Homo sapiens: one gene and its partner. The protein of the gene in region 2 interacts with the protein of the main gene of each other region in a pairwise test. Each region holds a gene or a part of one and is shown on either strand. Other genes may lie near its edges. The genes, in order: PWWP3A and GSTO2.

Region 1 (3,802 bases), on a different chromosome or scaffold from region 2:
CTCTGTCACCCAGGTTGGAGTGCAGTGGCGCAATCTCGGCTCACTGCAAGCTCTGCCTCCCAGGTTCACGCCATTCTCTTGTAGCCTTCCAAGTAGCTGGGACTACAGGCGCCCGCCACGACGCCCGGCTAATTTTTTGTATTTTTAGTAGAGACGGGGTTTCACCATGTTGGCCAGGATGATCTTGATCTCCTGACCTCGTGATCCACCCCCCTCAGCCTCCCAAAGTGCTGGGATTACAGGCGTGAGCCACCACTCCCGGCCACAGTTTTTTTTTAAGCCCATAAATACTTCAGTGTGTGTCTCTAAAAGGAGGGTGATTCTGCCCCCTGGGGGACACTGGCAGTGTCTGGGGACATCTGTGCTTGTCACAGCTAAGGGTGCTTCTGGCATGGAGTGGGTTGGGGCAGGGACGCTGCTCAGCACCCTGCAGCGCCTAGGACAGCCCCACCTCAGAGAACAGTCTGGCCCCGACGTCCACAGGGCCGAGTGGGAGAGACTCTGCTCTGAACCGAATGGACTCTGTTAAAAATGTGTTTACCATAATCACAAAAGTAAAAAATAGGGATGATTTCTTAATGTCAGGTATGTATTGTGTATTCAGGATACTCTTTTTTTTTTATAACAATAAACTTAAGGCCGGGTGTGGTGGCTCGCATCGGTAATTCCAGCACTTTGGGAGGCCGAGGCAGGTGGATCATGAGGCCAGGAGCTTGAGACCAGCCTGGCCAACATGGTGAAACCCCGTTTCTACTAAAAATACAAAAATTAGCTGGGCGTGGTGGCGCGTACCTATAATCCCAGCTACTCGGGAGGCTGAGGCAGGAGAATCACCTGAACCCGGGAGGCAGAGGTTGCAGTGAGCTGAGATTATGCCATTGCGCTCCAGCCTGGGCGACAGGGCGAGACTCTGTACCAGAAAAAACCGCCACCAAAAAAAAAACTTAAAATTTTTGAGAAATGCTCTTGTGGGTTTGGGTCTTGCCTTTTCTTCTCTGCTTTTAGTGATCTGAGCTATTGTGTCTAGTCCGAAAGATAGTACTGATTTAATTAAGAAACATCATTACAAGCAGGGATTCATGGACTAGGTTTGCACCTTCTGAACCATGAGCTAGACCATGTCTGGAGGCTGGAACCTGGTGACCCAGGCTCCCTGCGGCCTTCTTAACCGCAGGCCACTTGGGGCCAGTTGGGCAGTGCCTGCTGCTATTGAGCCCCGTGCCCTCTCACAGGCCATCATCTGTGCGATCTCTGCGGTGGACGAGGTGGACTACAAGACGGCTGAGGAGAAGTACATCAAGGGGCCTTCGCTGAGCTACCGGTAGGCCGCTCCCGGCGCTATCTCCAGCCACTTGCGTCTCTGCCTTGCAGTTTCTATTTCCACACCCACAGGCAGTTTGACTCCAGGCTGCCGCAGCCCCTCTCCCTCATGAGGTGGCCCAGGTGCTGGGTGGTGAGCTGATCACATACGCTGAACTCACCCTGTGGGTCACTCCTGCCCCCCAGGAAGGCTGTGCCCGGGTCTCCCAGCTGGTCGCTGTGGGCAGCACGGGGCCACGGGCACGTGCCTGGGCCGTGTCTGTTCTTAATCTCTTTTTGCAGGGGCTGATGTTTGCTTTTTGCACTTTCCTCCCCTCTTTCCACAGCCCCATGGCTGTGTGAGAAATACAGCAAGATTAAGCAGCAGCACGGCCCGGTGCTTTCCAGCAGCCAGAAGAATGCTGTGATCAAGATGTTTCTCTCACATCCGTGTGCTTAGCTGCCCTTGGATGTTTGGCCCCCAGAGCGCCTAATCCTGTCTCTGGGCATGCGGCCAGGCCTTGCTGGGAGCCAGGCGGGGCCCACGGGGCAGTGACAGGCTGAAGACTCAACTAGAGTCAAGGACAGGGTCTCCGGCCAGGGTGGCTTGCGCAGCCACCGACGTCTCCCGGGCCCACAGTCACAGGAGACTCCTGGTGAAGACACTGAACTCCCTCACCAGCCCCATGTCCTCCCTGGGCAGGGCAGGAGGGGCCCCTGGAGAGGCCAGGGAGGAGGTGTGGGGCCTCGGTGGCATTGGCAGGCCACCCCCGCAGAGCTGCACAAAGGTGGAATTTGGCCTTGTTTAGGGAGTGTTGGCCCAGCTGGCTTACCAAAACAGGAAAGGCCTTTGGATACAGAAACTGGGTGTTTTCCTGCTGGATCTTCATGGTTCCCCCGTCATGCTTGCCGTAAGAATAAGTGAGGTCCGGGGAGGGGGTAAGGTCGGAGCCAGGACACCTGGACCCAGCCTGCTGGTTTGTCCTCTCCCTCCGTCTCAGAAGCCTCTTCACCGCTCCACGCCCATCTGTGGAAATCTTTCATCCTGATTTTTTTTTTTGAGTCTGGGTTGCCGACATCAAAACCCGTTAGGAGTTCATCACAGCTTCCAGTTGCCATGAAAGCCTCCCGTGACCTGTGAGAATGGTGCTGGTGCTGATGGAGAAGTTACTTGGGCTGAGCACACAGGCCGTGATTTCATCACGCCGGGGACATGCTCAAAATAACAAGCCAGTGAGCAGCATCGCACTTGATCTTTGGCCTCAGTGGAGCCTTGGGTCACACACTGGGCGTCCTGGGACCCAGTCTCCCCGCCGCACGGCGTTTCCCAGGCCCTCTTGTTCTTTTAGAGTTGCACCATGAGCCTCTCTGCACTCTTCCCAAGGCTGTCCTCCTCAGGTCTGCCTTTCTCTGGTGCTGCGGCCGGTGTGCTCTCCCCTATTTCCAGGTCTGCTGGGGCGCACATCAGAGCCAGCAGCCGTTGTTGATCTCTTTTGATCCAGGGCAGCCCTATTGCTGAGAGGGGTTGCTAGCTAAGCAATTGTTATAATTTTCCTTTACAGGGAGGTCACTTAGTAAGGACAATTTGGCATCTCATACTCTTTCGTAAAAAATTATTTTTAGTCAGTCACAGTGGCTCATGCCTGTAATCCCAGCACTTTGAGAGGCTAAGGTGGGAGGATCCTCTGAGCCCAGGAGTTTGAGGCTGTAGTGAGCCATCATTATGCCACTGCACCCTAGTCTGGGTGACAGAGCAACACCCTGTCTCTAAAAATAAATATTATTTTAAAACATTGTTAAGGCCTGGTGCGGTTGCTCACGCCCATAATCCCAGCACTTTGGGAGGCCGAGGCAGGTGGATCACGAGGTCAGGAGTTCGAGACCATCCTGGCCACCATGGTGAAACCCCATCTCTACTTTAAAAAAAAAAAAAAACCAAGCATGGTGGCACGCGCCTATAGTCAGTCCCAGCTACTCAGCAGGCTGAGGCAGGGGAATCGCTTGAACCCGGGAGGTGGAGGTTGCAGTGAGCTGAGATTGTGCTACTGCATTCCAGCCTGGTGACAGAGCGAGACTCCGTTTCAAAAAAAAAAAAAAATATTACACATCCTGTAAAAGTTACCATCCTAACCTTCTTAAGTGTATGGTTCGATGGCGGTGAGCACTTTCACAGTGCTATGCAGCCGGTACTGCTGCTCATCTCCGAACTTCATCTTTCCAAACTACAGCTCTGTCCCCATCAAACAACTGCCCTCTCATATATATATAATATATATTATATATATAAAATATATATAGCCATATATATTTATATATAATGTATATTATATAAAATTTATATATTATATAAAATATATAAATTTTATATATAATATATAAAATCATATAATTTATATATTTTATATATAAAATATATATTATATATAAAATATATTATATATAAAATGTATAATTTTATATATTATAATATATACAATTATATAACAATTTTATATATTATATA
Region 2 (3,817 bases):
ACTGGGAAGGGACAAAGAGGACCCCACTAACGAGGGTTGGAGAGGGAGGTTTAATTAGAGAGATTTTGAGGAACTAAGATGAGATGAAATCTGAGGAAGGAGTAGGAGTTATGGAGGATGGTTTCCAAGTTTGTGGCCGGTAAATGTGATGCTTTTCACTAAGAGTTTGAGGGAAGACACATTTTGTCAAATTTGTGGTGTTGATGGGATATTCATATGCGGGCAGAGCTTAGAAGAACAATGTATGGTCTCTACTGGACCTTTGGAATGGTTTTATGGGCTAGGAGCTTTCACCAGAGAGTTTAGGAATGTCATTAGTGGGGTGGTGATAAATGTTTAAGAATCAATTTTCTCTTAAAAGAGAAAGAAAAAGAAAAAGCACGGATTTATAGCATTTGCTGATTTGGGTGGTGTAAACACTTCCGTCAAGGTTAATTTTGAGCTACCAATGTGCTATTTCTAAACTCAAGAGCTGGCAAAAGATGTGGGCAGCTCCAGCATGTCACTGAATAAGAAATTTCACTTTATCTTCAATAACTGAGCCCCAGGAACACTGTTGTTAACCAGCCTCTATATAGGTAGCTTTCACTAACCAGCCTCGGTGTAGGTAGCTTTCACTGATGCTATTTAAGGACCACTGAGTACTCCACATTGTCCTAACAGGTTTGAATGTGGTTTTGTCCCATAGAATGTTAGCAAGAATTGTAGCTATGGCTGGGCGTGGTGGCTCACACTTGTAATCCAGGCACTTTGGGAGGCCAAGGAGGGAGGATCACCTGAGGCCAGGAGTTCAAGACCAGCCTGGGCAACACAGTGAGACTATGTTTCTACTAAAAATTAAAACATGAACTGGTCATGGCAGTGCGGGTCTGTAGTCCCACCTTCTCTGGAGGCTGAGGCGGGAGCATCTTTTGAACCCAGGAGTTTGAGCTTGCAATGAGCTATGATCGTGCCACTGTACTCCAGCCTGGGTGACACAGCAAGACTCTGTCTCAAAAACAAATAAACAAAGAATTATAACTACAATGTAGGAAATATTGAAATCTGAAAACATGACCAATGTACTTGAATTATGCGATCTGTTCCTTTAAATGCCAAAATATTTATTCCAGGAGATTCTAGTGAAATTGAAATTTATCAGAATAATTCTAATGGAGAGGATCCCCTGATTTATGTAACTCTTTCACATGGTTTTGCACAATCAGGATTTTTTGTGAGCTAAAAATATATTAAATACTCATTGTCTTTCTGAGTGATAAGCAAGCCAAGATTTCATGCATAATCTTCTGCTATGTTATCCTGAAACAGAAGGCTCAGTTAACCTTTTGTGGCCTTAAACTCTGACACTTTCTTCTTTTGAAATAACTGCCTTGTCTAACTTTTTAAGTTTTTTTTTTTTTTTGGCTTGTTTTTTTGTTTGCTTGTTAGTTTTTTAAATCTAGTTTCAGGTGGGTTCAGTGGCTCATGCCTGCAATCCCAGCACTTTGGGAGGCCGAGGCGGGCAGATCATTTTAATCCAGGAGTCCGAGACAAGACTGTACAACATGGCAAAACCTTATCTCTACAAAAAATACAAAAATTAGTTGGATGTGGTGATGCATACCCGTGGTCCCTGCTACTTGGGAGGCTGAGGTGGGAGGATCACTTGAGTCCAGGAGGTCAAGGCTGCAGTGAGCTATGATCATGCCACTGTACTCCAGCCTGGGTGACAGAGTGAGACTTTGTCTCCAAGAAAAAAAAAATTAAGTTCCATCAAAATCAAAGATTTATTGTGCTTGTTATATAACCACATTTTTCTCTAATATCTTTTACAATTCTTTGAGATATATTACTGCCACTTTTATTATCAAACTAGCAGCCTGCTCACTGGCTTTCCTGTTCTGAACATTGGCATGAGTTTTAAAACTATGACACTTGTCTTGTCTTGCTGCACTTTATGTCTTCAAGCAGATTTTCTAGCCCTTACTGAATCATTACTCTAAGCAGCACACATTTTTTAGTTTTATTCTTTTTCAGGTATTGACTTTCCCATTTCAGAATGGGACTTGAGCCAGGCTTCATTTGATCTTTGTGGATTTGAATGTGGCAGGACCTCTTGGTGTCACTTTTTATCTGTGCCTTCCAAAAATATTTTCATTATGGAAGTAGTCAAATCAAGTCCAAGTGCAGTGAAAGGTGGATTTGGTCAGATTTCCTTGAGGCTTTGGAGTTTTGCTTTAAATCTAGAAAGTGTTCGTGGCTTCTGAATTGGTTCTGCACTCTGACTATTGCTTGGTCCTTTCTTCGTCATCATCAGAGCTCCATAAAAGAGAGCGGGGAGGGGATAACATAAATAATGCTGAAATAGCCCTGAGGGATGAGACATGGCCCAGCAACTGAAGCCTTCGTCTGCCCGTGGCCACAGGGCACTTTATGGTTTTGCTTCTTGTCATTCAACCACCTGCCTTGGGGTGCTTCACTTTGCATTTCCACGCAGAGTTTCCCGCATTGCCAAACTTGATCATGTGCCTTATGTGTAGCAGTTTGCATGAGGTGGAATTTGCATAAATTATGTGTGCATCACCCAGGAGCATCTGTAGTTAAATACTTTATTGATTCTAAATTTTGCCCATAATCTTAATTTTTTAATTATTTTATTTTCTTTTCCTCTTTTAGAGATTGGGGTCTCTCTCTATTGCCCAGGTTGGAGTGCAGTGGCACAGTCATGGCTCACTGTCGTCTTGAGCTCCTGGGCTCAAGCAGTACTTCCACCTCAGCCTCCCGAGTAGCTGGGATTACAGGCTGAAGCCACCGAGCCTGCCTCCGTTATCTTAATTATTATTATAATTATTTTTTTGAGTCAGGGTCGCACTCTGTCACCCACATTGGAGTGCAGTGACACAATCACGGCTCACTGCAGCCTCAGCCTCCTGGGCTCAAGTGATTCTCTCACCTCAACCTCCTGAGTAGCTGGGACCACAGGTTCAGGCCACCATGCCCAACTGTTTTGTTTTTGTTTTTATTTGTTTTAATTTTTTGTGGAGACGAGGTCTCACTATGTTGCTCAGGCTGGTCTTGAACTCCTAGGCTCAAGTGATTCTCCCACTTCAGCCTCCCAAAGTGCTATGATTACAGGCATGAGCCACTGCACCTGGTAATCTTAATTTTTAAACTGTTCTTTCTTCTCATCAAAAAAGACATTTATTCAAGTTAGATTATATTGTCTTGGTTTAGTTTTGCTTTTGCTCTTTCTTAATTTTTATTAATTTCCAGTGATGAAATTATTTATATATTGTTTAATTGTTTCTCCTTTGATATCACCAGGATAGGAAGAAAAGAAAGTTTATACCTGGTTAATTCGTCACTGAAAACAATTTTCTGTATCCTTTTATATATAGTAGACTACAAGCTAAATTTTTTATCATCTAAGTTAACATGTCTATAAACTAAATTCATTATTACTAGCTATTTTTAATAAGTTATTGAGATATAATTCATATGCCACAAAATTCACCCTTTTCCAGTGTACAATTCACTGGCTTTTAGTATATTAAGTGAGTTGTGCAACTATCACCAGTATTTAATTTCAGAGCGTTTTTTTTATCATCCCCCAGAAAAACTGCTCACTTGTAAGCTGTCATTTTCCATTTCTTCTCAATCCCTGTGGCTGTACGCAGCCACTGATCTGCTTTCTGTCTCTATGGATTGACTTATTCTAGACACTTCATATAAGTGGAATCATACAACATGTAGCATTTCATGAGCTATTTTCACATACCATAATGTTCTTAAGGTTCATCCTTCATTCTTTTTTATGGCTAAATAATATTCCATGTGT

The links.
Region 1: the proteins of GSTO2 (region 2) and PWWP3A interact in a two-hybrid assay, tested with the Homo sapiens proteins (one large-scale study listed by BioGRID).

Annotation. Positions count from the first base shown.
Region 1 is NC_000019.10:1,371,840-1,375,641, forward strand, and holds part of PWWP3A (PWWP domain-containing DNA repair factor 3A), read left to right. Parts: intron 1-1,232; coding exon 1,233-1,321; intron 1,322-2,108; coding exon of another isoform or gene 2,109-2,210; intron 2,211-3,802. UniProt on the Homo sapiens protein: Involved in the DNA damage response pathway by contributing to the maintenance of chromatin architecture.
Region 2 is NC_000010.11:104,282,632-104,286,448, forward strand, and holds part of GSTO2 (glutathione S-transferase omega-2), read left to right. Parts: intron 1-3,303; coding exon of another isoform or gene 3,304-3,336; exon of another isoform or gene 3,337-3,359; intron 3,360-3,817. UniProt on the Homo sapiens protein: Exhibits glutathione-dependent thiol transferase activity. Has high dehydroascorbate reductase activity and may contribute to the recycling of ascorbic acid. Participates in the biotransformation of inorganic arsenic and reduces monomethylarsonic acid (MMA).